Linked DNA regions of Homo sapiens. The protein of the gene in region 6 purifies or fractionates together with the protein of the main gene of each other region. This does not show direct contact. Each region holds a gene or a part of one and is shown on either strand. Other genes may lie near its edges. The genes, in order: SACS, IFT81, IFT52, PDXDC1, IFT46, ARL13B and STK25.

What was found.
Region 1: the proteins of ARL13B (region 6) and SACS purify together in Homo sapiens (co-immunoprecipitation; one large-scale study listed by IntAct). This does not show direct contact.
Region 2: the proteins of ARL13B (region 6) and IFT81 purify together in Homo sapiens (affinity purification with mass spectrometry; 4 studies listed by BioGRID and IntAct, with this or other methods). This does not show direct contact.
Region 3: the proteins of ARL13B (region 6) and IFT52 purify together in Homo sapiens (affinity purification with mass spectrometry; 4 studies listed by BioGRID and IntAct, with this or other methods). This does not show direct contact.
Region 4: the proteins of ARL13B (region 6) and PDXDC1 purify together in Homo sapiens (affinity purification with mass spectrometry; 2 studies listed by BioGRID and IntAct, with this or other methods). This does not show direct contact.
Region 5: the proteins of ARL13B (region 6) and IFT46 purify together in Homo sapiens (affinity purification with mass spectrometry; 4 studies listed by BioGRID and IntAct, with this or other methods). This does not show direct contact.
Region 7: the proteins of ARL13B (region 6) and STK25 purify together in Homo sapiens (affinity purification with mass spectrometry; 3 studies listed by BioGRID and IntAct, with this or other methods). This does not show direct contact.

What each region holds. Positions count from the first base shown.
Region 1 is NC_000013.11:23,423,380-23,427,486, reverse strand, and holds part of SACS (sacsin), read left to right. Parts: exon of another isoform or gene 1-520; intron 521-4,107. UniProt on the Homo sapiens protein: Co-chaperone which acts as a regulator of the Hsp70 chaperone machinery and may be involved in the processing of other ataxia-linked proteins.
Region 2 is NC_000012.12:110,134,203-110,138,309, reverse strand, and holds part of IFT81 (intraflagellar transport protein 81 homolog), read right to left. Parts: intron 3,363-4,107; coding exon 3,297-3,362; intron 2,984-3,296; coding exon 2,873-2,983; intron 1,535-2,872; coding exon 1,450-1,534; intron 1-1,449. UniProt on the Homo sapiens protein: Component of the intraflagellar transport (IFT) complex B: together with IFT74, forms a tubulin-binding module that specifically mediates transport of tubulin within the cilium. Binds tubulin via its CH (calponin-homology)-like region.
Region 3 is NC_000020.11:43,593,937-43,598,043, reverse strand, and holds part of IFT52 (intraflagellar transport protein 52 homolog), read right to left. Parts: intron 3,352-4,107; 5' UTR 3,346-3,351; coding exon 3,227-3,345; intron 1,610-3,226; coding exon 1,522-1,609; intron 1-1,521. UniProt on the Homo sapiens protein: Involved in ciliogenesis as part of a complex involved in intraflagellar transport (IFT), the bi-directional movement of particles required for the assembly, maintenance and functioning of primary cilia. Required for the anterograde transport of IFT88.
Region 4 is NC_000016.10:15,030,104-15,034,210, reverse strand, and holds part of PDXDC1 (pyridoxal-dependent decarboxylase domain-containing protein 1), read right to left. Parts: intron 2,477-4,107; coding exon 2,305-2,476; intron 1,351-2,304; coding exon 1,232-1,350; intron 934-1,231; coding exon 812-933; intron 1-811.
Region 5 is NC_000011.10:118,548,518-118,552,624, reverse strand, and holds part of IFT46 (intraflagellar transport protein 46 homolog), read left to right. Parts: intron 1-289; coding exon 290-411; intron 412-772; coding exon 773-839; intron 840-4,107. UniProt on the Homo sapiens protein: Forms part of a complex involved in intraflagellar transport (IFT), the bi-directional movement of particles required for the assembly, maintenance and functioning of primary cilia. May play a role in chondrocyte maturation and skeletogenesis.
Region 6 is NC_000003.12:93,978,296-93,983,130, reverse strand, and holds the start of ARL13B (ADP-ribosylation factor-like protein 13B), read right to left. Parts: upstream 2,977-4,835; 5' UTR 2,708-2,976; coding exon 2,649-2,707; intron 1-2,648. UniProt on the Homo sapiens protein: Cilium-specific protein required to control the microtubule-based, ciliary axoneme structure. May act by maintaining the association between IFT subcomplexes A and B. Binds GTP but is not able to hydrolyze fit; the GTPase activity remains unclear.
Region 7 is NC_000002.12:241,492,063-241,495,877, forward strand, and holds the end of STK25 (serine/threonine-protein kinase 25), read right to left. Parts: intron 3,640-3,815; coding exon 3,600-3,639; 3' UTR 2,064-3,599; coding exon of another isoform or gene 1,946-2,063; 3' UTR 1,387-1,945; coding exon of another isoform or gene 1,231-1,386; 3' UTR 975-1,230; coding exon of another isoform or gene 867-974; 3' UTR 608-866; downstream 1-607. Other genes in the region: FARP2 (FERM, ARHGEF and pleckstrin domain-containing protein 2), read left to right, coding at 867-974, 1,231-1,382, 1,946-2,063. UniProt on the Homo sapiens protein: Oxidant stress-activated serine/threonine kinase that may play a role in the response to environmental stress.

The DNA.
Region 1 (4,107 bases), on a different chromosome or scaffold from region 6:
TTCCTACTGTGGGTCAAGCCCATATGCCAAAATAGGATATTTTTGCTGGGAAGGCCAAGAGGTCACTGCGTGGCACATCTGCTTGCTAGCTGTGGGCAGTGGCTTGAGGTTCCAAGCTGGGGAGGAGGGGAGCCCCTGTCCCTAACAGCTGCTGGACAGCACTGATTGTTTTGACCCCTGAAGCATGAGAGGAGGTCATGAATCAGTGGGCAGAGAGTATCATGAACACATTTCATGTCACTTCATGTGTTAAAAAATATTAGATCAGCAAAAGTAGTAGCATCTAATATTTGCAAAAACCGTCTGCAGTTGACTAAATGCTGTTAGAACACAGCTCAGTTTGGTGTTGCGGTGATACAGTTCATGGATAAGGCAAGCTGGCCCTGTTTAGGGATGAGGAAAGTTGGGCACAGCGAGATTATGCGATTCTCAAGCCATGGTGAGGAGAAGACCGAAGAATGTTCTCTTCCATCAGGTGGTGCTACTCCCCAAATGGTAGGGTAGAAGCAGCGTTCCTCTTCTGAAAAGAAAGAGAAGGAGGAAGAAGGAAATGAGGTTTGAGGGGGTGAAAGGAAAATATCTTAGGCCCCCAAAATCACTAAGGAAAACTCAACCCAGGAACTGCTTAGGGCAAACCTGCCTCCCATTCTATTCAAAGTCACTCCTCTGCTCTCTGAGATAGATGCATATCTGATTTGCCTCCGTTGGAAAGGCTAATCAGAAACTCAGAAGAATGCAACCACTTGTGTATCACCTGTCTGACTCACTTCCAGTCTTCTTGCTTTTGCTTCAAGTTGTCCCCCCTTTCCAGACCAAACCAATGTACTTCTTTTTTTTTTTTTTTTTTGAGACGGAGTCTCACTCTGTCACCCAGGCTGGAGTGCAATGGCATCATCTCAGCTCACTGCAACCTCCACCTCCCGAGTTCAAGCAATTCTTCCATCTCAGCCTCCCGAGTAGCTGGGATTACAGGCACCCACCATCATGCCGGGCTAAATTTTGTATTTTCGTAGAGACGGGGTTTCACCATGTTGGCCAGGCTGGTCTTGAACTCCTGACCTCAGGTGATCTGCCCGCCTTGGCTTCCCAAAGTGCTGGGATTACAGGCGTGGGCCACTGCACCTGGCCTGTACTTCTTACATATACTAACTGATGTCTCATGTCTCCCTGAATGTATAAAACCAAGCTGTGCCCTGACCACCTTGGGCAAATGTCATCAGGACTTCCTGAGGCTGTGTAAGGGGTGCGTCCTCAACCTTGACAAAATAAACTTTATAAATTAACTGAGACCTGTCTCAGATTTTCTGGGCTCACTGAAGTCCTATACTTGTGTCAGGCACTCAGTCGTGGGGAATAAGTAAGAGCTGGGAGCCACCGGGATTTAAACGAAGTATGGGCTGTTGCTGGACTCTTCTGGACACCAGTTTCCTTCTCTGTATAATGAAATTCACAATTCCCTACCAAATCACTAGGCTGTTATGAGACTGAAATAAGATCATCCCTATGAAATCACTTTAACAAATCTAAAATACCATGCCCCTGCAAGGTAATCTTATTGTATTGCATTTTAATTTTACTACCAGTATCATTCCAATTGTATAAAAATTTTGTATATACTAATATTCTCTGCCTTGTCACACAGACCCCCGGCGGCCATGCTCTAGCTCATAGGCACGAGCCCACTCCCGCAGGGAGTCAGGCGGGGTGGAGCTTCGGGGCCCCAAGTCCAGCACCCACCTGAGATCTTCACACCCTGAGCAGAGCAGTCGGGGCAACTTAACTGGGCACCAAGTGGGCAAAAATGGCGCCTTCCCCACCACATGTGCAGAAGGGTGAATTCCTGGATGTTGAGGGGTGGGGGCACAGAAACTCCCTGCCCGCTCTCCCCAGGAAGAGGGCAGGGCCCATGGGGACAAGGATTCCCACCTCTTCCCCACCACCATGGACATAAGGCCTTAGTGGACACCAAGGCCCCAGCACGACATCAGGCCCCAAACGACACTGGACTCTAGGTGGACACTGGACATCAGACACCAGGTTGATGCCAGGCCCTAGTCAAGTGGACTCCAGTCCCTGCATAAACATCAGGTCCCAGTTTGGCACATAGGCCCCAGGTGGACACCAGGCCCCTGGTGGATGCCCAGGTTAATACCAGGCCCCAGGTGGACACAAGGTCCCAGGTACATTCAGGTCCCGGGTGGAAACCAGGCCCCAGATGGACATCGGGCATCTGTATGTCAGGTCCCAGGTGGACACATAGGCCCCAAGTGGATGTCTAGTCCCCAGGTAAATACCAGGGCCAAGGTGAACAGGAGGCCCCAGGTGGACACCCTGACCCCAGAGGACCATCCAGCTCGAGGTGGACGTCAGGCCCCAAGTGGACACCAGTGTCCAGATGGACATCAGGCCCCAGGTAGACACTCGACTTGAGGTGTACACCAAGCACCAGGCTCACGCCCAGGCCCCCGATGGATACAATGAAACAACAGGTTCCATTCAGTGATATAATAAAGCACATCCCAAAGCTCCTTCACCCATATCTTCATGATAATTAACTGAGCTGGATAGTCACATGTTCATATATAGGCCTAATAACCTCAGAAATGTAATTGTTTAGATTCTACAAAACCTGTGTTTGGACTTGTTTAATGGAAACTCAGGTTCCATTCAGTGATTTAAAACAGCACATCACAAAGCTTCTTTGTACATAGCTTGGTTTTCGTTATTAGTACTGGACGTTCATATGTTGATATATAGGCCTGATAGCCCCTGAAATGTCATATCTGAGATTCTACAAAACATGTGTTTGGAACTTGCTTCATGGAAACACAGGTTCCATTCATTTATATAAAACAGCACATCAGAAAGTTTCTCCTCACATAGCTTGTTTTTCATTATTAGGGCTGAAAATCTATGTAGGTACAATAGTCTCTGAAATCTCATTTCCTTTTTTTTTTTTTTGAGACAGAGTTTCCCACTTGTTGCCCAGGCTGGAGGGCAGTGGCGTGATCTCGGCTCGCTGCAACCTCCGCCTCCCGGGTTCAAGTGATTCTCCTGCCTCAGCCTCCCAAGTAGTTGGGATTACAGGCATGCGCCACCATGCCCGGCTAATTTTGTATTTTTAGTAGAGCCGGGGTTTTTCCATGTTAGCCAGGCTGCTCTCGAACTCCCGACCTCAGGTGATCTGCCCGCTTTGGCCTCCCAAAGTTCTGGGATTATAGGCGTGAGCCACCATGCCCGGCCTGAAATCTCCTTTCTTAGATTCTCCAAAACATATGTTTGGAAATTGTATAATGGAGATTCCAGTTGCATTCAGTGATATAATAAAGCACATCAGAAAGCTTCTTCACACATAGCTTGTTTCTAGTTATTAGTAGTGGATATGTGTATATTCATATATAAACCCAATAACCTCTGAAATGTCATTTTTGTAGATTCTACAAAACATGTTTGAAACTTGTTTCATAAAAACACAGGTTCCATTCAGTGATATAAAACAGCACATCACAAAGCTGTTTTTAGTTATTAGGGATGGATACTCGTATATTCATATATAGGATAATATCCTCTGAAATGTCATTGCTTAGGTTCTAAAAAATGAGTGCTTGTAACTTGTTTAACAAAAACACTGGTTCTTCTCATTCATATGAAATAGTACATCCCAAAGCTCAAAGCTTCTTCACACATAGCTTGCTTTTAGTTATTAAGGCTCCGTATTTTTATATATAGGCCTAATAGTTTATATATAGGCCTAATAGCTTCTGAAATCTCATTAATTAGATTCCACAAAATGTGTGTTTGGAACTTGTTTAATGAAAACTCACGTCCCATTCAGCGATATAATAAAGCACATCACAAATGTTCTTTGCACATAGCTGTTTCTAGTTATTAGGGCTGGATATTAGTAGGTTCATATAGAGGCCTAATAATCTCTGCAATGTCATTACTTAGATTCTACAATACGTCCTTTTGGAACTTGTTTAACAGAAATGCTTGTTCCATTCAGTGATATAAAACAGTGCATCCTAAAGCTTCTTCGCACATAGATTGTTTTTTGTTATTAGTGATAGATAGTTGTATATTCATACATAGGCCTAATAGCCTATG
Region 2 (4,107 bases), on a different chromosome or scaffold from region 6:
ACTGAAAAGTTAGAGCTTATTAAACTAAATACCTGGATCAATTAAATATGTTTAATCTACCCTTTTCCTAGGCTGTGAACAGATCACTTTCCACTTCCCAGAAAGATGTCAACGAAGTAGGAACTCCTTAACCTCCTGCTCCCTGCTCTTGTAGAATTTCATAGATTACTACAGAAAGATGAATTAACCCTCTATCAGCTATTTACATTGGGATAGTTCTCCAGTACAAATGAGAGCTTTCCACTGCTCTTTCAGTTTGCGTGGTCTTTCTTCTGACAAGCAAAAATGCTTTGTAAAATGCCTAGGATGGATCTGGTGGTGTAATCTGGGCTGTTAGGACAGTTTATCCTCTGTGTTAAGCTAATGTAAGAACAGAGCCAGAGATACCTACGTCATTAGCACTGTTATTCTACAAACCAAAATATGAAAAACACTCGGTTTTAAGGATCCAGCATTCTATTCTTTTTCTTTATAGCCCTGGCTTTAAAACAATGATTCATAATTTTTCCAACCATCATTTTCACAACGTCCATGCTAAGTCCTTTATTTATTTATTTATTTATTTATTTTTCTTGAGACAGAGTCTCAGTCTGTCGCCCAGGCTGCAGTACAATGGCGCGATCTCGGCTCACTGCAACCTCTGCCTTCTAGGTTCAAGCAATTCTCCTGCCGCAGCATCCTGAGTAGCTGAGATTATAGGCACATGACATCATGCCCAGCTAATTTTTTTGTACTTTTAGTAGAAACAGGGTTTCACCATGTTGGCCAGGTTGGTCTCGAACTCCTGACCTCAAGTGATCCACCCGCCTCAGCCTCCTAAAGTGCTGGGATTATAAGTGTGAGCTACCACGCCCAGCCATGCTAAGTCCTTTATACAAGCACAAACCAGACAGCCTCCCTCCACAGTTGTTTTCATTATCTTCACTCTCTGATGTGAAAAACTGGTTAGGAATTGTTTGTTGTTGCTGTTAAGATGGAGTCTCGCTCTGTCGCCCAGGCTGGGCTGCAGTGGCGCGGTCTCGGCTCACTGCAACCTCTGCCTCCCAGATTCAAGTGATTCTCCTGCCTCAGCCCCCTGAGTAGCTGGGATTACAGGCACCCACCACCACGCTCTGCTAATTTTTGTATGTTTAGTAGAGATGGGGTTTCGCCATGTTGGCTAGGCTGGTCTCGAACTCCTGACCTCTCGCCACCTCGGGCTCCCAAAGTGCTGGGATTATAGGCATGAGCCACTGCACCCGGCCATCTGGTTAGGAATTTTTAAAAACATCTGGTGAAAACCCAGGGATGTCTTTATCAGGGCTCTCCTTCTCCAGCTAGGAAATGATGTTCCAAAATGCTGAGACATCACTTGATGATAACTAATTCTCACAAATTGATTTTTTAGGAAGATCGTGATTTAAATTAATATTTTCTAATCATCTATACCATATAATAATTTCCACTTACTTTCAGGCTTTGCATCTGCTGCAGCTTGGCGCATGCTTTTCAGCTGGTTTTGTACTCTTTGCAATCTTTGCACTGCATGAAATAGCTTTAAAATACAATTAAATAGATTACTTGCTTAGTCTACTGAAGCTTACCTCTCACTTAGGCAAGCAATGAAAAATACAAGTTCCATATAATTCTTATGATATAAAAGGAACAAATAATAAGAACTCGGAAAATTCCCATATTAAACCCAAAATGTAACTGGTTCTCTCAATACCTTTTCACATACATTTTTTAAGGAAGTTTTCACAAATTTTTCTTTAGTTATTTACTGAATTTGCGGTTTAAGGAAAAATACTTATCAAAGAAACACACACACCAGATTTTTCTTGTTATACATGGTTTTCTTAAGGCCAAGTAATGTTAACATTGATATAGTGATGTTTCAGAATCACAAACCAACGCCAAGTAACCATTCAGGGCTTAGGCGATGCAGCTTACTGCTGCAGTGAAACTACTTCGATGCCAAGTCAAGTGCCAGCAAAATCAAACATTTAAACTGCTGATTTAGTAGTAAATGAAGCTTATGTGAAATATATTTTAATGTATAAGTCTACTCAGATTTTAAAATAGATTTTTAATAAGTAAAAGTAATAATTTCTTAGCAAATTATTTTTCTTTAAGGCAAAGTTTAAAAACATGGAGTGTAGGTGATTTTGAGCCTTTTCATGACTTATTTGCCATTGTAGTAAACTGCAGAGGGTACTGTGATCACTGGAATAAAAAGAATGGTCTCATAGCCCTGGAATCTAAAAGCATCCTGTAGAGATTCTAGAAGTTTTATTAGCAGTTAATCTTACTGTTAACATTACAATGACTCTTCTGTAATGTTGGAACAACACGAGGTAAGCATAGGCCAAAAGACAGTGTATAGATACAATTCAGAGTATAAAACCCAAAAAGTGGTATTGTTGTTGCCACAAAATATTTATCTTTTTTTTTTTTTTTTTTTCAGACAAAGTCTCACTCTGTTGCCTAAGCTGGAGTGTGGTGGCGTGATCTCAGCTCACCTCAACCTCCACTTCCTGGGTTCAAGTGATTCTCCTGCCTCAGCCTCTGGAGTAGCTGGGACTACAGGCATGTGCCACCATGCCCAGCTAATTTTTATATTTTTAGTACAGACAGGGTTTCACTGTGCTGGCCAGGCTGGTCTTGAACTCCTGACCTCCTGATTCGCCCGCCTCAGCCTCCCAAAGTGCTGGGATTACAGGTGTTAGCCACTGCACCCGGCCTGAAATATTTATCTTAATTAAAAGAGTATTCCATTATGTTAGCAAAAGGAACGTGAACGTCTACAATTTTAAAACTCTTTTCTTTACATTTGGATTATGAGAAGGAACTATTTCCTTCATACTGAGAATATAAACTTTTATGTGGATACCTGATTCTTTTGTTCCTGTTTCTGTTGTGCAAGATATTCTTCTCTCTCTTTTTCAACTCGAAGTTGCCTTGCTATTTTAAGCATCCATTGATGATTCTGAGCTGTCTCAACCTACAGTAAGGGAATAAGTAGTACATGTTACTGTCAGGTTTGAAGAAAAAAATTAGCATGTCATGTGACTCAGACATCCACTTATCATTTCCTTTTGGTAAACAGTACTCCCTAGAGATGACAGTAAAGCTCTAGGCTCCAGGTCCTTGAAAGTGCTGGGCTACTGTCTAGAGAGATTCCCTTTTCGTCAATGTTATTTGAGTCCATCCTCAGATGTACACTCATGCTTGGCTGAATCTTTATTTGCATTCCTAAATCTTTGCAAGTCCTTGGGACTTGGGGCCAAAGTCTTACAGTACTAATTCTGCCTTACCCTTTTCTTCAAATGTTCAACTCTCTTAATGAGCTGATCCTTTTCTTCTTCCATTGCACTGATATCCTAAAAAGTGGCAAAGAAGACCTTATAAGAAAAAGTATTCTCAGTCTGTAGGAAACAGATAAGGTTTTATTTTGATTATGCATCTAACATTTTCATCATTTATAACCACAGCATTAACAACCAAGATCCTCTTTTGGATGAAGGTCATTTCTATTTTTCCCCCAGGGCTTCTTATGCAGGGTAATTTTTTTGGCAGCTTGGTGTTCATCCAGAAATGCAACAAAAACCAGTTATAATGCAGCAAGGTAAAGCTGCCAACCAGCACATTTGTGTTCTGATTCCAAATATGGGCACATGATTTTTGAAAAATTTTCTATAATGGAAAGTGTGCAGGTCTAAATACATGAACAACAGCTGCTGACATCCCATCTGTTCTGTTAAATACCAAGCCATATATTTTGCCAATTTTCCATCAAAATTATTTTTAAGGCTATGGTATTTTCATGACATAAGTTTGTACCTGGTTTTTCCAATGAACCAATTCCGTCTCTGAAAATAAAGACTTCAAAAATAAACTTCCTTCCTGTTAACCAGCTTCATAGTATTTTGTTATAAAAACAAACAAATAAAAAAACTCCTTCCTAAATCTAAAAAACTAATAGCTTAAATATCGCAGTAATAGTAAAGGTAAAATATACACGGTAGTCAGTATTGACAGAATTTGGAAAAATGGGCACTCTTACTCATTACCGATAGCACTGTACTGAAGAACAATATCAAAAGTCTTAAAATATAGCCTGGCCAA
Region 3 (4,107 bases), on a different chromosome or scaffold from region 6:
TTGGGCTATTTCCACCTTTTGGCTATTGTGAATAGCGCTGCTAGGAAGATAGGTGTGCAACTATCTCTGAGATCTGGTTTTCCATTCTTTTGGGCATATACCCAGAAGTGGAATTGCTAGATCATATGGCAGTTTTTTTTTTTTTTTTTTTTTGAAAGAGTCTCACTCTGTTGCCAACGCTGGAGTGCAGTGGCCCGATCTCTGCTCGCTGCAACTCCGCCTCCCAGGTTCAAGTGATTCTCCTGCCTCAGCCTCCCAAGTAGTTGGGATTACAGGCGCACACCATCACGCCCGGCTAATTTTTGTATTTTTAGTAGAGATGAGGTTTCACCATGTTGGCCAGGCTAGTCTCGAACTCCTGACCTCAAGTGATCCACCCTTCTCAGCCTCCCAAAGTGCTGGGATTACAGGCGTGGGCCACCACACACAGCCATCATATGGCAATTTTATGCTTAAATTTTTGAGGAACTACCATACTGTTTTTCATGGTGACTGCATCATTTTACATTCCCACCATCAGTGTGGAAGGGTTCCAATAACTTCCCATTCTCACCAATACTTGTCATTTGTATTCTGGGCCTTACATTTATCATTCTTTATCCATTCCATGAACTAGAATAATAAACACTTTTATTTTAAATGAATTCCTATTTTCTTTCTTTTTTTTTTTTTGAGATGGAGTTTTGCTCTTGTTGCCCAGGCTGGAGTGAGATGGCGCGATCTTGGCACACAGCAAGCTCCGCCTCCCAGGTTCAAGCGATTCTCCTGCCTCAGCCTCTCATGTAGCTGGGATTACAGGAATGCGCCACCACGCCTGGCTAATTTTGTATTTTTAGTAGAGACGGGGTTTCTCCATGTTGGTCAGGGTGGTCTTGAACTCCCGACCTCAGGTGATCTGCCTGCCTCGGCCTCCCAAAGTGTTGGGATTACAGGTGTGAGCCACCGCGCCTGGCGGAATTTTCCTATTTTCAAAGCAAAAATATAGCAAAGAAATGTGGCTACTGGCTGGGCTCGGTGGCTCACACCTGTAATCCCAGCACTTTGGGAGGCTGAGGTAGGCAGATCACAAGGTCAGGAGTTTGAGACCAGCCTGGCCAATATGGTGAGACCCCATCTGCACCAAAAATACAAAAATTAGCCGGGCGTGGTGGTGGGCACCTGTAGTCCCAGCTACTCAGGAGGCTGAGGCAGTGAGAATTGCTTGAACCCGGGAGGTGGAGGTTGCAGTGAGCCGAGATTGCGCCACTGCACTCCAGCCTCGGCGACAGAGCGAGACTCTGTCTCAAAAAAAAAAAAAAAAAAAAAAAGAAGTGTGGCTAATATTTAATTGGCCCACACTATGTGTTTGGTACTTTACATGGAGTATCTCAGTTAATCATCACAACTCCATGATGAAAAGAGAGATGAAGTGACTACCTTAAGGCCACACAGTAAGTGGTGAAGGGGGATTCAAATCCGGTATTTCAAAGCTCAGACTCCTAATCATTTCACCATATTCCTTCTTTAGTGGATATTTCTTACCTCAGCTGCAGTAAATTTTTCCCTTGGCCCAGCTGTAATCCACAGTTTCACTCCATTTAACTTCTCAGATGTGATTTCATCTTTTAAGCTGGAAATACAATTTTAAAAGCAAATATGAAGTCCATAATTTAAACCAATTTATGTATTATTTTAGTCTCTTAACTATTTGGAAGCAGAGGCCACAGAGGCTCAGAGATGAAGGGATTTAGAGGTAACTGGTCCAGTCTCTCTCCCAAAGTGAGAATTCCCTCTACAGGCCTGCCCCAGAGTCATCTGGCCTCTGTTCAAATACTTCCAGTAAGTCAAGGTGTTCAAATCAAGCCATGCTAAAGCATAAGGAAGTCTGCAACTACTAATTCAATCAGCCCTACCATTAGCTTGTATGATTACATATCCTCACCTATTAAGAAAAACATGCACATACACAAAGTTATTCTCATTTAATTCTCATGTTTCCTTTCCCTAGTACTGACCTGAGTCAAAATATGAAGAAAGCCTCTAACATCTTAAAAAGCTACATGTGTATAATTAGAATAATCTTTTGGCTTGTGATTTGGAAAACAACTTAATAATATGCTGCTTTAATAATATCCTAATTGCTGATTTCGAAAGACATTTTTTTTTTAATTTTTGTTTTTGACAGAGTCTCCCTCTGTTTCCCAGGCTGGAGTGCAGTGGCATGATCTCGGCTCACTGCAGGCATTCACTTCCTGGGTTCAAGGGATTCTTGTGCCTCAGCCTCCTTAGTAGCTGGGATTATAGGCATGCACCATCATGTCTGGCTAATTTTTGTATTTTCAGTAGAGATGAGGTTTTGCCATGTAGGCCAGGCTGGTCGCCAACTCTTGACCTCTAGTGATCTGCCTGCTTCAGCCTCCCAAAGTGCTGGGATTACAGGCATGAGCCACCGCGTCCTGCCCAAGAGACGTTTTAATAAGAATTTATTTCATTCTGAATAATGTTTTTTTATTTTTTTAGACAGAGTCTCGCTCTGTCACCAAGCTGGAGTGCAGTGGCGCAATCTCGGCTTACTGTAACCTCCGCCTCCTGGATTTAAGCGATTCTCCTGCCTCAGCCTCCCGAGCAGCTGGGACCATAGGCACGCACGATCATGCCCAGCTGATTTTTGTATTTTTAGTAGAGACAGGGTTTCGCCATGTTGGCCAGGATGGTCTTGATCTTTCTTTTTTTTTTTTTTTTTTTTTTGAGACGGAGTCTCACTCTGTTGCCCAGGCTGGAGCGCAGTGGCACAATCTCGGCTCACTGCAACCTCTGCCTCCCGGGTTCAAGCAATTCTCTGCTTCAGCCTCCCAAGGAGCTGGGATTACAGGCGCCCACCACCACACTTCGCTAATTTTTTTTTTAATTTTTAGTAGCGATGGGGTTTCACCATCTTGTCCAGGCTTGTCTCGAACCCATGACCTCATGATCCACCCGCCTTGGCCTCCCAAAGTGCTGGGATTACAGGTGTCAGCCACCGTGCCGGCCAGTCTTGATCTCTTGACCTCGTGATCCGCCCGCCTCAGCCTCCCAAACTGCTGGGATTACAGGTGTGAGCCACCACGCCAGACCTAATTCTGAATAATCTTTAAATTGAGCTTCTCCCACCTAAACAATCTATGTTACCTAAGAAAATAAAGACTTCTCAGCTTTATCAGCAGGACAATATCATTTAGAAGGGAAAACAATATACATGGTCAGTCACCTCTGAATCTTCCAATTACTCCGAAGTTTTTTCTGCATGGATTTGTAGCCATTGTTGGTGGTAAATATCTCCTTTTTGTAGGCATTGAAAAGAATGGTGCTCCGCAGCTCTTTCTCCATGGTTACCTTATGGAAGAAAGATGGGATCAGAAAATCAATAAACAATATTCCAAAGACCCTAAAAGTAATAAATAGTTGCCTTCTACTACTAATTTATCAAGAAAGGGTATACAACTGAAACCTATCTAGGAAACTCCTACAATTCTCAAAGGTTGAGAGTGAAATGCAAAAGCATAGCACAGAAACCTAAGACCAAAACCAACCCAGCCCTCCCCTACCCGCTTTTGCTTTCTGCCTCTTGCCCAGATCCTCCCAACAGCCTACACCTATGGCTCTGCCCTGCCATCACCCTGCTCTTGTGTCCCAAGACCATGTTTCCATCCTGATTCATTACTGCTAACTACTGTTAAGCGCAGGGTATAGTCTTCTAGATTCTATTTTTCTTTTTTTTGAGACGGAGTCTTGCTCTGTCTCCCAGGTTGGAGTGCAATGGTGTGATCTTGGCTCACTGCAACCTCCATCTCCCGGGTTCAAGCGATTCTCCTGCCTCAGCCTCCTGAGTTGCCAGGATTACAGGCACGTGTCACCATGCCCAGCTAATTTTTGTATTTTCAGTAGAGACGGGGTTTCACCATGTTGGTCAGGCTGGTCTCAAACTCCTGACCTCATGATCCACCTGCCTTGGCCTCCCAAAGTGCTGGGATTACAGGTGTGAGCCACTGCACCCAGCTCGAGATTCTTTTTATACATATATTAACTTACAGTTTTATTTTATGAAATAGGATCTTACCATATGCATTATTCTGAAACACCTGTTTCACC
Region 4 (4,107 bases), on a different chromosome or scaffold from region 6:
TGAGGGAATTTTTCAAAAGCAGGTCAATGAAATCCTGCATTGAAAAGCCGGCGTAAAACGAACAGAAACTCAAAGACAAGCAGATAACATGCTCATAGAGGCCTAGGCAGACACACCTTGGTGACCAGCCTCATTTGCTACGTATTCTTGAAAACAGAGAAGTCATAAAGTCAGGCTGGAAAGAAACCTTAAGGAGTCCACCCAGAAAGGAATGAAGCTGGCTTCTCGGCCGCATGTCCAATGGCTCGTGTCTCTCTCCTTTCAGAGCAGTCTTACCTTGGTCCCTCTTCTCTCCTTTTGAGTGATTTTTAGGGAAGTAATCATCTGTTTGGAGGATACCTTATCAGCCTTGTATCCTGGTCCTCCATGCTAAGGGACCCACAGCAGTAGGTCTATTCCTGGTGGGAAGTGCTATAGGGAAGGGGTGTAGGGGGAACCACACATACAACAGCCCATTTCATTCACCCTCAGGACACAGCTCCAGAGCAGAAGTCCTCCCTGACCTTGGTGGCAGGGGTGAATGTGTCTGCCTGAGTGTCCAGCTACCCGCCCTCTTCTCTAAGGCAGGGTTACTACACAGCGTGGCTATGTGGATCTTTCCCCCTGAGCTTGTGAGATCACTGGGGCATGGGCTGTGTCAAACCTACTTGGCATCTCTGACACCTGGCACAAGGCCCAGCTTACAGGAAACATTGACAGACTTTGAGAGACAACGAACAGACATCCCAAGGGCAGCTGCTTTCCTCGTGGCCCCTGCTGTTTGGTGGGACAAAACTCAGAAGAGGAATGAACACTGATGGGTGCTACGGACCCTCGAGTTCTCCTCTATCTCCCGGGCTGTGGCCGCAATGGTCTCCACGAGCTCAGCAGCATCGACGTTGTCGCTCGCCATGCCGACATAAAGGCAGCTCTTCATGCTCTTATACTCAGGGCCTGCAAAGGTAACGAGACAAACTTGAGTTTCTCAGTCCTCTGTCATGGGTGAGACGTGGACCTACTCTCCTGTTCAGGGTCCTGACCACACACAAAGGGGTCTCCTCCATGGAGATTCTAAGGGCGGAGAGAAAGGCCTGGCAAGGCTGCAGAAGGGGAGGGAGGTCTCAGAACCGCATCTTCGCCTGGAACCCAGCCCGAGAGGCGCTAGCCCGCTAAGGGATGAGCCGTCGTCTTCAAAGCCGGTTACCAAGTGTCCTTCCAAACCCCACAGCTGACTTACAAAGTAAGCAGTTACCTATTTTAAAGGTTAGGTCAGATTCCAGTTCATTTAACTTCTTCAGGAGTCCAGCATGGATGTTTTCCCCTTCGGGATCTGATTTCAAACTGCTCTTATCATCATTAGCATGTTCATACCTAAAACAACATCAAACCACAGCATTTCAGCTTAAAAGATCAAATGTCTCTTCTGATACAGGATTAGAAACCTCTAAATATTAGCAAGACAATGCAGTGGAACCAGTGGGCAAAAGAGCTACTGCGAGTGTCTCCAGACCACAAACTTTCTGGAAGTGTGCCAGGAGTAAAGAGAAAGTCACAGGAAAGCCTTTTTTTTTTTTTTTTAAAGCAGGGTCTCACTTGGTGGCCCAGGCTGGGGTGCAGTGGCATGATCTTGGCTCACTGCAACCTCCACCTCCTGGGCTCAGTTGATCCTTCCATCTAAGCTTCCCGAGTAGCTGGGACTACAGGTGTGCACCACCACCTCTGGCTAATTTTTGTATTTTTTCTAGAGATGGGGTTTCGCCATGTTGTCCAGGCTGGACTCAAGCTCCTGGCCTCAAGTCATCTATGCTCCTGTTGGCCTCCCAAAGTGCTGGGATTACAGGCATGAGCCACCGTGCCCAGCTGAAAGCCTAAGTCTTTAGTTCCATACAAGGTCTGGAAGTCTCATGGGCAATACAAAAAGAGGTTTGCCTCACCTCTGAAGGCGAGAAAGCAGCCATAGGACTGCACCCAGTTCTCTCCCCGAGAGCTGGGTTCTTTTTCTTACTGATTTGCAATTCTCTATATGCCCTGGATAGTAACCATTCTCAGTGAGTGATATATACCTGTTGGCATCTTCTCCTAGGTAGCTGAGAGTCGGCACCTACAGACAGAACATTCAGCAACTCCCCTCCCTGAGCGCCACGCTGGCCAAATTGCCTGCTTGCACTGTGCTTTTGTAAATGCCCAGAAAACCGAGTTGCATTTTCGTTAAGCATATTGTGACTACACGTTCATCTTGGATTTCTAAGGTGGTTCAGAAAATGACCCACTCATGTTCTTTATACAGAAAAGTCTCCAACATCAAGCGGCAGGCCAAGACTTTACCTGACAACCCCTATTCCAGACCAGTTAGGGTCATCAACATATAGGAGACCTGCTGTTGCTTCCACTTCCTGCTTGAACTCTTCACGCAACTGGAGCGTACAGCACAGCACTGGCAGTTTGCTTTCTATGCAGGCTACGAGCTGATCCACATCCTCTCCCCGAGTTCCTAAAACTGAAGATGTTCACAATGTCAGAGAAATGCTCACGAGATGGCCAATGACAAGAGGGCAGGGCTCCCTCTTCCACTACTGGGAAGGTCAAAAGCTCGAGGTACTCCAGTTACCGGGAGCCATGGAGATTTAAACAAAAAAAGGCCCTCAACACAGATATGGAAGAATTAGGGTTAGAAACAGACACAGCTGGCTGTAGCAGGTGTGGAGTGTTTCTCTCACAGATGTGGCCCACAATGACATACTCCAGTGTTAGAAATCACTCTTCCCACAGCAAGCCTACTTCAGGCAGGCTGGAGACATCACACCATAGGTTCAGCACAAAAAGGCAACCACAGATTCTGTACATTCCTATGACTGAGAGAAAGGGAAGTACTGTGGTGGGCTGCTGTCCCCACACAGGAAGGACAGGGAGATGGTGACAGCGCCGGGCCTCAGGGCTCACTGGCTTACTTTTGCAGTTTTAGAGACTAAGTATCTAGAGCTGTGGCCAGGCAATCCTTATAGTGGCCAGTGCTTTGGGAATCTGAGCCAGGAGGATCACTTAAGGCCAGGAGTTCAAGAGCAGCCTGGGTGACAGAGTGAGACCACGTCTCTATGGAAAAAAAAAAAAAAAAAAAAAAATAGATGTGGTGGTGCTCGCCTGTAGTCCCAGCTCCTTGGGAGGCTGAGGCAGGGGATTGCTTGAGCCCAGGAGGTCGAGGTTGCAATGAGCTATGGTGAAGACACTGCATTCCAGCCAGGGTGACAAATGAGACCCTGTTTCTAAAAAAAAAATAAAAACCAAAACACAGATCCCCAGGCTCCATTCTAGAATCTCTGGGGGTGGGCGGCCACTGGTTGTGTGTAAAGCTCCCGGATGACTCTAATGTGCAGTGGGGAGTGAGAACCCTTGTAGTGGAAAATCGAGAGTCACAAGACATCAAAATATAGGAATTCCAGCCTGGCCAACGTGGCAAAACCCCATTTCTACAAAAAATGCAAAAATTAGTCCAGTGTGGTGGCTCATGCCTGTGGTCCCAACTCCTCGGGGGCTGAGGTGGGAAGATCACTTGAGCCCAGGAGGTCAAGGCTGCAGTGAGCCATGATCGCACCACTGCACTCCAGCCTGGGTGACAGAGCAAGACCCTGTCTCAACAACAACAAAAAAGGAATTCATGTGATGACTTTTTTTTTTTTTTTTTTTTTTTTTGAGATGGAGTCTCCTCTGTCCCCCAGGCTGGAGTGCAGTGGTGTAATCTCAGCTCACTGCAACCTCGGCCTCCCAGGTTCAAGTGATTCTCCTGCCTCAGCCTCCCAAGTAGCTGGGACTGCAGGTGTGTACCACCATGCCTGGCTAATTTTTTGTATTCTTAGTAGGGGCGGGATTTCACTATGTTGGCCAGGCTGGTCTCGAACTCCTGACCTCAGATGATCTGCCTGCCTTGGCCTCCCAAGGTGCTGGGATTACAGGTGTGAGCCACCATGCCCGGCCAATTCAGGTGACTTCTGAATTCTCATTCTGATTCTGGTAAGTTACATGGGAATGCTAATCTACCTAAATTTAGCCCAAAAGAAAAGAAAATGCCCCTCCAAAAAGAGCTGCTAATAACTCTAGGAGAATGGAGTATCATAAGGGCAAGCTAATCTACCC
Region 5 (4,107 bases), on a different chromosome or scaffold from region 6:
GACAAGGTCTCACTATGTTGCCCAGGCTGGTCTTGAACTCCTAGCCTCAACTGATCCTCCCACCTCAGACTGCCAAAGTGCTAGGATTACAAGTGTGACCGCCATGCCTGGCCTGGCTGCAGCAGATTTTATCAGGGTTTTCTATCCCCTTCATTTGGCTACTGTTTCACGTGGCAGCAGCTGTCATCAGCAAGCTCGAATATGAAACAGCAGCAGATATAATGAGACACTGTAAAAACAAGAGAGCTACTTCAGTGCCATCAGCTAGGCTTTCTCCTTACTTTCCTAGCAACATATGAAAGTAAAAAGCCTAGAAGATGCAGAAAAGAATCCCAAAGCCATTGACACGTGGATTGAGAGCATCTCTGAATTACACCGTTCTAAGCCCCCTGCGACTGTGCACTACACCAGGTAAGAAATACCACATTCTTTGCAACAGTAACACATAGTAACCTTCACTACCTGTGAACTGTTGCTCCTGAGAAGAGGCCCAGAGGCTGGGAACATATTTGATCAACCTGAGGTCCTGTGGATCCTGGCAACTACTGGCTGAGATTGTAGACATAAAGATTGTAATTTCTCTAGTATTACTTAGCTACCTCCTCCAAACCCCAGGCCCTGGGTAACTTTGGTATGCCCAGTCTAGGTTCTCCTGAAGCCTTCCTGATGTGCCAGATTGAAGACCTCTCCTTCATCCTAGAATATGCTGATCCAGAGGTTGCTGATGTTATCAGTTCACGTTTCTTGTTCATATTTACCTTTATACTTTTAGGCCCATGCCCGACATTGACACGCTGATGCAGGAATGGTCCCCGGAGTTTGAAGAGCTTTTGGGCAAGGTGAGTGGAAGGTAGCAGGAGGTAGGGTAAGAAAGTACAGTATTCGCTCCAGGGCCCAGTGTTTTTTCTCTTCCTCCATTATTATTATTGGTAACTTTTTTTTTTTTTTTTTTTTGAGACAGGGTCTTGCTCTTCCCAGGCTGCAGTGCAGTGGCATGATCATGGCTCACTGCAGCCTCTACCTCCCGGGCTCAAGTGACCCTCCCACCTCAGCCTTACCAGTAGCTGGGACCACAGGCATGCACCACCACACTCAGCCATTTTTTTAATTTTTGGTAGAGACGAGGTCTTGCTTTGTTGCCCAGGCTGTTCTCAAACTCCTGGGCTCAAGCAGTCCTCCTTCCTCAGCCTCCCAAAGTGCTGGGATTACAGGCATGAGCCACTCCACCCAGCGATCATTAATTTTTTTTGTTGAGATGGAGTCTCTCTCTGTCGCCCAGGCTGGAGTGCAGTGGCATGATCTCAGCTCACGGCAACCTCCACCTCCCAATTCAAGTGATTCTCCTGCCTCAGCCTCTCGAGTAGCTGGGATTACAGGTGCCTGCCACCATGCCACCATGCTAATTTTTGTATTTTAGTAGAGAAAGGGTTTCACCATGTTGGCCAGGCTGGTCTCGAATTCCTGACCTCAAGTGATCCGTCTGCCTTGGCCTCCCAAAGTGCTAGGATTTCATTAACTTTTTAATGGTAACACAGGAAACCCATGTATATGTGGTAATTTGATATATAAGAAAGATAGTTTTTTTTTTTTTTTTTTGAGGCAGTCTCACTCTGTTGCCCAAGCTGGAGTGCAGTGGCATGATCTTGGCTCACTGCAACCTCCGTACCCCCCGCAGGTTCAAGCAATTCTCCTGCCTCAGCCTCCCAAGTAGCTGGGATTACAGGCATCTGCCACTGTGCCTGGCTAATTTTTGTATTTTTAGTAGAGACGGGGTTTCACCATCTTGGCCAGGCTGGTCTTGAACTCCTGACCTCGTGATCCACCCGCCTCTGCCTCCCAAAGTGCTGGGATTATAGGCGTGAGCCACCGCGCCTGGCCAAGAAAGATAGTTTTTTAAATGATTGGTGATAGAATTAGGGTATAATGAGACAATTATTTGAAAAAAATTAAAGTAGGTTTCTGCCTCAACTGTATACATATGTGAATTTCAGATGAATTAAAGAGTTAATGTGGGCCGGGCACAGTGGCTCATGCCTGTAGTCCTATAATTTTGGGAGGCTGAGGCGTGAAGATTGCTTGAGCTCAGGACCAGCGTGGGCAGCATAAGGAAACTCTGTTTCCAAAAATAAACAAATAAATAAAAGAAGGGAAAAAAAGAGTTATTGTAAAAATAAAGCCATGTAAGTAATATAATAAAATATAGGAGATACAGAAGGAGCATGACTGAAAAAATAAATGAAATAAAATATAGGAGAAATTTAATTATCTCTTTTTAAAAAATTCAAGTGTCTTATAACTTAGGGAAATTTAATTCTATTAGGATAGTTAGGTGTTTCTCAGTGTAATAAGAAACTTAAAAGTCATATTGAGGCCGGGTGCAGTGGCTTAGGCCAGGCGCGGTGGCTCACACCTGTAATCCCAGCACTTTGGGAGGCCGAGGCAGGTAGATCACCTGAGGTCAAGAGTTTGAGACCAGCCTGGCCAACATGGCGAAACCCCATCTCTACTAAAAAAATACAAAAATTAGCTGGGTGTGGTGGTGTGTGCCTGTAATCCCAGCTACTTGGGAGGCTGAGGCAGGAGAATCACTTGAACCCAGGGGCAGAGGAGGGCACGGAGGTTGCAGTGAGCAAAGATTGAGCAACTACACTCCAGCCTGGGTAATAGAGCGAGACTCCATCTCAAAAAAAAAAAAAAAAGTCATAATGGAGTGGGAGGCTGAGATGGGAGGATTGCTTGAGCCCAGGAGTTTGAGACCAGCCTGGGCAACATAGACCCATCTCTGTTAAAACCAAAAGAAAAGGCCAGCCACAGTGGCTCACGCCTGTAATCCCAGCACTTTGGGAGGCCGAGGCGGGCTGATCATGAGGTCAAGAGATCGAGACCATCCTAGCCAACATGGTGAAACCCCATCTCTACTAGAAATACAATAATTAGCCAGGCGTGGTGGTGCACACCTGTAGTCTCAGCTACTCGGGAGGCTGAGCCAGGAGAATCGCTTGAACCTGGGAGGCAGAGATTGCAGTGAGCCGAGATCGTGCCACTGCACTCCAGCCTGGTGACAGAGCGAGACTCTGTCTCAAAAAAAAAAAAAAAAAGTCATAATGGAGAAAATGTGACAGTTTAAACTCATAGAAATGAAAGGTTCTACATACCAATAGATACCATAAACAAAGTTAAAAGACAGTAGCAGTCTGAGAAAAAATATTTTATATATGTATGTAATAGAAAAAATTACTGTCCAAGCAAAGAGCTCTTATATATCAATAAGGAAAGGAAACTGGGCCAGGCACGGTAGCTCATACCTGTAAATCCCAGCACTTTGGGAGGCTGAGGTGGGACGATCACTTGAGGCCAGGAGTTCAGGACCGGTCTGGGCAACAATAGGAGACTCTTCTCTACAAAAAAAAAAGAAAAGAAAAAAGGAGCTGGACATGGTGGCTCATACCTATAATCCCAGCACTTTGGGAGGCTGAGGTGGGCGCATCACCTGAGGCCAGGAGTTCAAGACCAGCCTGGCCAACATGGCAAAACCCCGTTTCTACTAAAAAAATTAAAAAAATAGCTGGGTGTTGTGGCAGGCACCTGTAATCCCAGCTACTCAGGAGGCTGAGGCAGGAGAATCTCTTGAACCCAGGAGGGGTGCAGATGTTGCAGTGAGCCAAGATTGCATCACTGCACTCCAGCCTGGGTAATAGAGCAAGACTCCATCTCCAAAAAAAAAAAAAAAAGTCATAATGGAGTGGGAGGCCAAAATGGGAGGATTGCTTGAGCCCAGGAGTTTGAGACCAGTCTGGGCAACATAGACCCATCTCTATTAAAAGAAAAAAAAAAGGCCAGGTGCAGTGGCTCACACCTGTAATCCCAGCACTTTGGGAGGGCGAGGCAAGAGGTCAAGAGATCAAGACCATCCAGCCAACATGGTGAAACCCCATCTCTACTAAAAATAGAAAAATTAGCTGGGCATGGTGGCGCACACCTGTAATGTAATCCCAGCACTTTGGGAGGCCGAGGCGGGCGGATCGTGAGGTCAAGAGATCAAGACCATCCTGGCCAACGTGGTGAAACCCCATCTCTACTAAAAATACAAAAATTAGCCAGGCATGG
Region 6 (4,835 bases):
AAACAAATCTGCAAAGTAATCTCAAATATAGTATATTAATAACCATCATCATCTCTTTTACAAATTCACTCCTCACATTTCATCTTCATAAAATATAAACATGAAGAGGAATCTTAATAAGAAATTCTACAGAAAACAAATATATACATAATAATCAAACAGGCAATTTCTGTTGAAAAAATAGAGAACACCATAAAAGCACAAAATTTTGTTTTTAAAATTAGCTTGCTCACCTCTCATTTATTCCAGTAAAATAAATGGAACTACTTGCTAATGTTATTTACTTCAGGATGATTATTACTAAGAAAAATCGAACTACATACAATATTTGGCAAATATTTATTCAGCCACTATTATAAATCAGGCATTGAACAAGGGGACTTAGAAGACAGGGGTAATCCAACTTGTGTTCAAATTCTTTGACAGTTATCCAAATTGAGATGTTTACCTATGTCCTTTATATTAGGCTATGATCCAGAGCAGTAAGATCCAACAGAAATGTTAACATAAGCAACATATACATTGAAATTCTCTAGTAATCTCATTTTTTAAAAAGTAAAAAAAAGTTAATTCTAATATATTATTTAACCTAGCATATGCAAAAGTTATCATTTCAACATGTAATCATACTTTTAAAAGACTGATAAGATGCTGACTTTTTTGCATAATAAATCTTTTTTCAAAGCCCACTATGTATTAAACATACACTTACAGCATCTTAATTCAGACTAGCCACATTTCAAGTGCTCAACAGCCACGTGTAGCTCGTTGTTACCCTACTGGACAGGACAAATCTAGATGGTGCTTATTAAAGAAGAAAATACACTCTGGGTTATGCAGCTAAATTTTAATAATGCTTTATTAAGAAAATTCAATTATCTGTTCTACTTGGAAATCAATACATTCTCCTTTCTCTGAACTCTTCTCTTTAAACAAATCATTCCAGAGAGTATATATACAAAAGCTGCTAAGAAAAGGAAAGACTAAGAATGATGAATTAAATTGAACACTCCTTCTTCGAATTACACGTTTTCACTGTTTCTCGTTAAAAGAACGTAAGTTATATACATGCCTTCACAGAAACCAAATACATTTCTTAAAAGCAGACACGGAGGAAAATGAGGGGTCAACTATTATGAATGACCCTCAAGTCTTAGTAGATACTGTGAAATTAGACCAGAATATAATTAAAGCAAATAAATCAGAATCTATGCACCTAAAACAACTCTTTGACTTTTTTCTTTTTTTTTTTTTTTTTTTTTTTTGAGACAGGGTTGCACTGTGTCACTCAGGGAGTGCAGCGATATCGGCTCACTGCAACCTCCGCCTCCCAGGCTCAAGTGATCCTACTGATTCAGCCTCCGAAGTAGCTTGGACTACAGGCGTGCGTCACCGTGCCCGTTTATTTTATTGTAGAAACGGGGTTTCGCCATATTGACCAGGCTGGTCTCGAACTCCAGGGCTCCAAAGATCGGCCAGCTTCGGCCTCCCAAAGTGCTGGGATTACAGGCGTGAGCCACCACACCCAGCCCATCTTTGACTTACAGAGTTGATCTTACTACTTATATTTAAAACATTCAAATTCAGTTAGGAGCTAATAATGGGGAAGAATCTCTAGTTTCATTTAAAGTTACTTTTTTTCCAATCTAGACATGTATTTTCTGTTATAATGTGTAAGTGTAGCTTTTCAGATTCATTCTTTAAAGGATAGTTCATTCTCATGGCAAATATACTTAAAATGTTAACAATTTAAAAAAAAAAACAACTTTGCTTTATCTTACCCTTGGCCCAATTCCAGACTAGAACTATGTGAAGTCAACATTATTTGTGTAACAAACACAAGATCTCTTTATAGGTTAGGCCTCAGTTTCAAAAGCATCAATTTCACTGATTATTTCCTAAGACAGTGCCTGGCACAAGGTATTGTCTTAATAAATATTTTTTGAATGAATGAATATCAAGTAACAGGTACTAATTATTAATACTTCCAGCATTTCAAAATGAAATGTTAAAAAGTGGACCCTTTCAATTAAAAGGTTTTACTAGAGACCGTATAAAAATTGGAAGCTACATTACAGTTAAGAAAACACTATCACTTGTTCTCATTGAATACAATATTTCTAAAGCAGAGTATTATCACTCTCATTTAATATTTAAGAAAGGTGGGGCCAAAATGGTTGAGTCATGTAATTATTAAGTAGTGGAGCCAGATTTCAAGCCCACGTCCTCAAATACAACTGTGTGGAGGTGTGACTTGGAATGGAATGTGCGGATATTATGAAAACTATATTCCATGTCCCCCTCTTTTTAAAAGAATTTCCATTACAAAAGCTTCAGAGGAAAAACACACAATGGATAGTTTTCAATTCCACACACACACACACACACACACACACACACACACTTTTTAACAAATTCAAACCTATTTAAAATATAACAACGGTAAGCATTGTCAATCGCAACAGAAAGTCGACCAGACAACAAGGCTACATCCTCCAATCTCTCCCTCCCGGGACACCCTGGGAATGAAAGCATCCCTTGCGGCCTGGGATAGACTCGTCCAGGCGCGGGGAAAAGGCGGCGCCTCGCCCCTGGGGCGCAGCCATCTCCAACCCCTAGGACGGCCAGGACAGCTGGCTCCAGCCTACCTGACAGGCTCCCGCCACCGCTTGAACCAGCCGCAGCAACTGGCCATCAGACTGAACATCCCGGGTCGCTCCTCCCACCACTTCCCATCCGAGCCCGGAGCGGACACCGGCACCCCGCTCTTCCCCGGGGGCCTCCGGCACTCCGAGACGCCCCTAAAGTGGATAAGTCGGGAGGAAAAGCCGGGAGGGAAGTGAAGGCGGCCGGCCCGAGCACTAAGCCTTGCTAACCGCGTGGGTCCGCGACGACTGCCCTCTTAGCCAAGGAACAACCTGACCAAAGACGCAGATACACCGTAGCCGAGTTAGCGGGACCCGGCTAAAGAAAAGCCCCGCGTCGACGTGCTGACGTTACTTCGAGGCGCGGAAGGCGTTCCCCAGGCAACGCCCGTACTGCGCTCGCCCAATCATCGGTTGAGGTCCTGAGGTAGAGGCCTCTGAGTGGCTGAAGAGTCCTGGCTACCCGCCCCTGCGCGAGACTAGGAAAAGAGAAAGGGGAGTACTCTATAAGAAGGAGGCGGAGCTCGAGGTAGCTCGTTCTCGTAACTAGGCAACCGGAGCGTCCGGAGATAAGCTGGAGGATCCGGGACAAATCTCCAGCAAGGCCTATCTTTATACCTACATAAAATGTGTTGCCAATCCACGGTGCTGTTCCTTTCCTTTCTCCAGTGTCCCCAACTGAGATTCAGAGATCTCAGGTCTTGTGCATGGGTTTTTCTTTTTCTTTCTTTCTTTTTTCTTGTTTTTTGTTTGTTTGTTTTTTGCTCAGGGATGGGGACCCTCTAGAATTCTGGCCGACTTAGGCAGCATGACTACAGGAACAATACACTGGGGCAATTCTTGTAAGTTAAAGACAAGGGGGAAATTCGCTTGCTAAATTTTCTCAGTAGTTCAGATGAGAGTGAAGCCTTAATCTCTAAAACGTTTATTACTGTTACATATGTGAAACGGAATTGTATGATATTTGTTGTAGGGGGGATTGTGATTACAAAAGAAAAATGCATTTCTTGTAGAAAATGTGAAAAATACTAAAAAGAAACAAGATGAAGAAAATGAGATCTCACAGGAGCTCTCAAAGATAACCATTTGGGGCCGGGCGCGGTGGCTCACGCCTGTAATCCCAGCACTTTGTGAGGCCGAGGCGGGCGGATCACGAGGCCAGGTGATCTAGACCATCCTGGCTAACATGGTGAAACCCCGTCTCTAGTAAAAATACAAAAAAAAAAAAACAAAAAAAAACAAAAACGGGTGTGGTGGCACGCGCCTGTAGTCCCAGCTACGCTGGAGACTGAGGCAGGGGAATTGCTTGAACCCGGGAGGCGGAGGTTGCAGTGAGCCGAGATCGCGCCACTGCACTCCAGTCTGGGCAACAGAGCAAGACTCCGTCTCAAAAATAAATAAATAACCATTTTGATGTATGTTTGTTTCAGGATTTTTAGGTACATAAATTGCTGGCTATTTGGTATCTGCAAGATGAAGATTGTTATCTCTTGACTGTTTTGTAATAGTTTATTTTTTAAAGAGGTATGTAATATTTGCATTTCTTTTATATACTTTGGAGAAAAAGAAATGACAAGGACATTCCTGTAGGGAAAAAATTATGCACAATATGTAGGGATCTGTGTGTCCATTCATTTTCTACTTAAATAAATATTTTCAAATCCTGATGAAAGGATAGAAGGCACTGAGAATCCCAGTGTATTCGCGGGGAATATAATGATTTGAGACTAAGATACATATAGGTTTTAAATTAGTCTCTGTCCTTTACTAAATCATGTAACTTTTTTTGGTTTTGTTTTGTTTTGTTTGAGACAGAGTCTCCCTCTATCACCCAGGTTGGAGTACAGTGGCATGATCTCGATTCACTGCAACCTCCGCTTCCTGGGGTCAAGTGATCCTCCTTCCTCAGTCTCCCAAGTAGCTGGGACTAGAGACGTGCACCATCACGCCCAGCTGATTTTTGTATTTTTTGTAGAGACAGGGTTTCATCATGTTGCCCAGGCTGGTCTCAAACTCCTGGCCTCAAATGATCCGCCTGCCTCGGCCTCCCAAAAGTGCTGGGATTATAGACATGAGCCATGGCACCCAGCCTCATGTAATTTTAATTCAAATTTATATACATCTCATACAGCTTGCTATCTCCAAAATACTGTGCCTTATGGGGAACAAAGGGGGTGATACCTTTTCTTC
Region 7 (3,815 bases), on a different chromosome or scaffold from region 6:
TTGTCAGCTCTATCTCACTGCATGGGCCCGGTCTGCCATTGTGGGTCACCAGGTTCCTCAGCCTGGTGCCCCCACACCCTTCCCCAAGCCTGCTGTCTTACTCCACCCAGAGCTCTTGTCTTTTTTGCTGTCTCCCCATAATTCACCCCAGCCACAATCGGCTGGGCAGGGGCTCAGGAGCTACCCCAGCACCCCCGTGAGGGGGCTGAGCCCGAGCCTCTCCCCTGATGACCCTGGGTAGGTCAGGGTGCAGCAGGTCCCTGACCTGGGCCCACCAGCTTATGGCCAGTCCAGGACACCTGAGATCTAAGCAGGGTCCTAGCTAGGCCCGCTCCGCCATCTTAGAGTGCAACCCCTGAATACCACCCTGAAGGCGGGAGGCTCATGTGAGCCCCATGAGCCCAGCCACTCCAGCGCCAAAGCCATGCCTAATCCTGGCAGAACAGATGCCACATGCTTAGGGACAGGGCTGCAGTGGGGCATCTTGTGTGTGCCTTTACTTGCCTCTCCCCCACCCATCATTTTAAAGAACCTTCCAGACTTGGCTCAATGTACTGTCTCTTAAGGTATCTTCTCTCTTCTGGCTGTTGGATGGGTTTGTGGATGGTTGGTTACTGAACACTGACTTTATTGTGCACAGGGAAAGGGAACTCACTTTACTTGGTGCCTGGAATGTCACTCTAGGTTTTTAACATGCTTCTGTTGGACTTAAGTACTGATAAAGCTGCTGTTCATAGCAGTCCAGAGGTAAAACCAAGGCCTCAGCTGGAGAAAGCATGCAGAGGCTTAGTCTTGGGGAGCAAACCCACTCCCACAAGGGGTCCTGGGTGCTGGTTAATGCACCTGCATTTTTCCTTTATTGACAGAACCAGCTTTCAGGATATCTGCTAAGAAAGTTCAAAAACAGTCATGGCTGGCAGAAGCTCTGGGTCGTCTTTACCAACTTCTGTTTGTTCTTCTACAAAACTCATCAGGTACTGGAGTTTCACTGGAGCCCAATGCAGGTGATGCTAGCAGACAGACACTTAACCCTGCTCACCTGTGTCCCTTTTGTATTTTGGTTCTGCCCTCCCATGCTTTGCCCACACACCCTGTGCTGTGTGAACAGGGAAACTGGCTCCCTTGGCCCGTGGGCATTTGTACGTGCCACCGTTGTGCAGGTAGCAGAGGAATGGGCATTCCCTGTGGCAACCCAGCCCCTGGAACCCGTGTCCCTATGCTGTCTTGCAGGATGACTACCCACTGGCCAGCCTCCCGCTGCTGGGCTACAGCGTGAGCATCCCCAGGGAGGCCGATGGCATACACAAAGACTATGTTTTCAAGCTCCAGTTCAAATCCCACGTCTACTTCTTCCGGGCTGAGAGCAAGTACACATTTGAAAGGTAATTTTGCAGGAGGCAGCCCTGGTCAGCTGCCCATTTCGATGTCCGCTCAGCTCCCATTTCTACTCATGGTGGTGGAGGCAAGTTTTCTGGGCCCTGGAAAGGAAGGGCTGAGCAATGCTTCCAGCATTTCCAAAAAACAGCAATGCTTTGTTTTTTTTTTTTTTGGAGATGGCGTCTCCCTCTGTCACTCAGGCTGGAGTGCAGTGATACAATCTTGGCTCACTATAACCTGCACCTCCAGGGTTCAAGCGATTCTTCTGCCTCAGCCTCCTGAGTAACTGAGATTACAGGCATGCACGCCACGCCGCCTGGCTAATTTTTGTATTTTTAGTAGAGACAGGGTTTCACCATGTTGGCCAGGCTGGTCTCGAACTCCTGACCTCAAGTGATCCATCTGCCTCAGCCTCCCAAAGTGCTGGGATTATAGGCATGAGCCACCGCACCCGGCCCCAGGTTTTTAACCCTTCTTTTGTCCTGCTTGTCCCATATCCTGGGTTGTTCTTGGGACAGTGTCTGAGCACAAGATGGCTCACTGGTCTGATGGCCGCCCTCTCCTCCAGGTGGATGGAGGTGATCCAGGGGGCCAGCAGCTCAGCCGGGAGGGCCCCAAGCATCGTGCAGGATGGCCCCCAACCCTCCTCAGGGCTGGAGGGGATGGTCAGGGGGAAGGAGGAATGACGCTCAACCTGCCCAGGTTTGGACACAACTACAAAGAACAGCAGGACACAGAGGTGACCTCTGTCCTGAGGCTTCTCAACAGATGGGAAGTGGCTGTGGTCTCACTGGATCCCCACTGGCACCAGCAGTGTGGGTGGGCCTCATGTAACATCTGGGAGGGGCTTCATCCCCCCACCCAGGACCTAGTGCATGCCAGCAGCTATCTGGGGCCCTGGGAAAAATGTGCGAGTCTTGAGCGCGGAGCCGCTCAAGCCACAGCTCCCAGGCCCCTGGCTCAAAGACGCAGACAAGGCCTGAGCAGTGCTCTCGGCATCGGACCAAAGCCTGGGCACACCCTGCCTCTCTCCCCAGAGCAGGGTCCCTGCCGAGGACTGGCCTAGAGCAAGCACTGGAAAAGAGGCCCTGCCATACACCCTGCGTACCCACTGCCAGGACCCTCTCAGACAAGCGTGGCACAGCCATGCTGACCTTCCATCTGGTGAACCAAGTGGCAGCCCCAGGGGCCTGCCCTGCAGGTCACAGCTAAACAAGTCTGGCAGAAGCCACGCTTGTTCCCCATGTACCTCTAGAGAAGCAGAAACCAAAGTCCCCCTGTGCCCTGGGAGGGTGGGGCCGTCTAATTTATTACTGCCCAGCATTCCTTCCAACGGGAAGTAGATGGGCGACTGCTTTGTTCACACACATTTGATTAAAAATAAACAAACAGCATCTCCCCACCTGCATTCTCCTCTGCCTGCTCTGTTCTTCCGGTGGGCCAAGCAGAGCCCAGGAATCCGTCACAGGGAAGTTTCGAAGGGGGGCTGGGCTGCCGTCTCTGCGTGCTGTGATGAGGACTCGGGACCAGGGACGCTGCAGCCCCGCATGGCCCGGGCCCCACCACACACACCTGCATGTCTCCAAGTCAGGTCTTTATTGAAAGTGGCAGGGGCCTCTCAATGTTCTATGAAAACTAACATATTAACCTCAGAATATTTCAGGAAACAAGTAATTCAATTTTCTTAAAAAACAAAACATTCTGGATGACACAAGTACTTATGAGCAGACACAGTACCTGATCCAACACCACAAGGCAAATCTATGGCCATCATGGGCCCCGGGAGGACAGCGGCCAGGACACTCCTCTGGGGGCTGCCCTGTTGCCTCTCCCCACCTCATGGGAGGAGGAGGCAGAGCTGCCCTGATAGTTGCTCTGCGCCTTGGTCTGAGCGGCCATAGGGCTGCATGAGTCTGCAGAAGACCCAGGCGTAGCTCATGAGGGCCACGCCGGCGGCTGGAGCCCCCGTGAGCAATACTGCTGGGCCAGGAGAGGGAGGAGGGCAGTGGGCATAGAGAACAGCGTCCCTGACGTGCACAACAGCACACTGCAGGGGTGGAAGGAGACGGTGACCTGGTGACCTGGCATGTGAGGCCCACGGGATCCGACGTGTCCCTGCAGGCACGACATAGCACAGGGCACCTTCCAAGTCAGCACAGTTCTTATGGAGCTCAGAACAAAAACAAACGACCTTCCGTCCCCTATCTGAACAGCAGTGCGCTTCAGCGGGTGGATGTCAGGTGGTTTCTGTTGTGTGAAAACCTGCAGAGAGAAGAGCCCACTGCTGCGTGCGTGCACCTCTGTGCCCAGGCTCCTGACGGCCTCTTGGGTGTGCAGTCTGCGGTGGCAGCCCTGACAAGCCACCGCACCACGTGGGTCTGAAGGTGTCCCCAATGCACAGGGTCTCAGGAGCAGCAATGACTGGCCCAGACCCCACC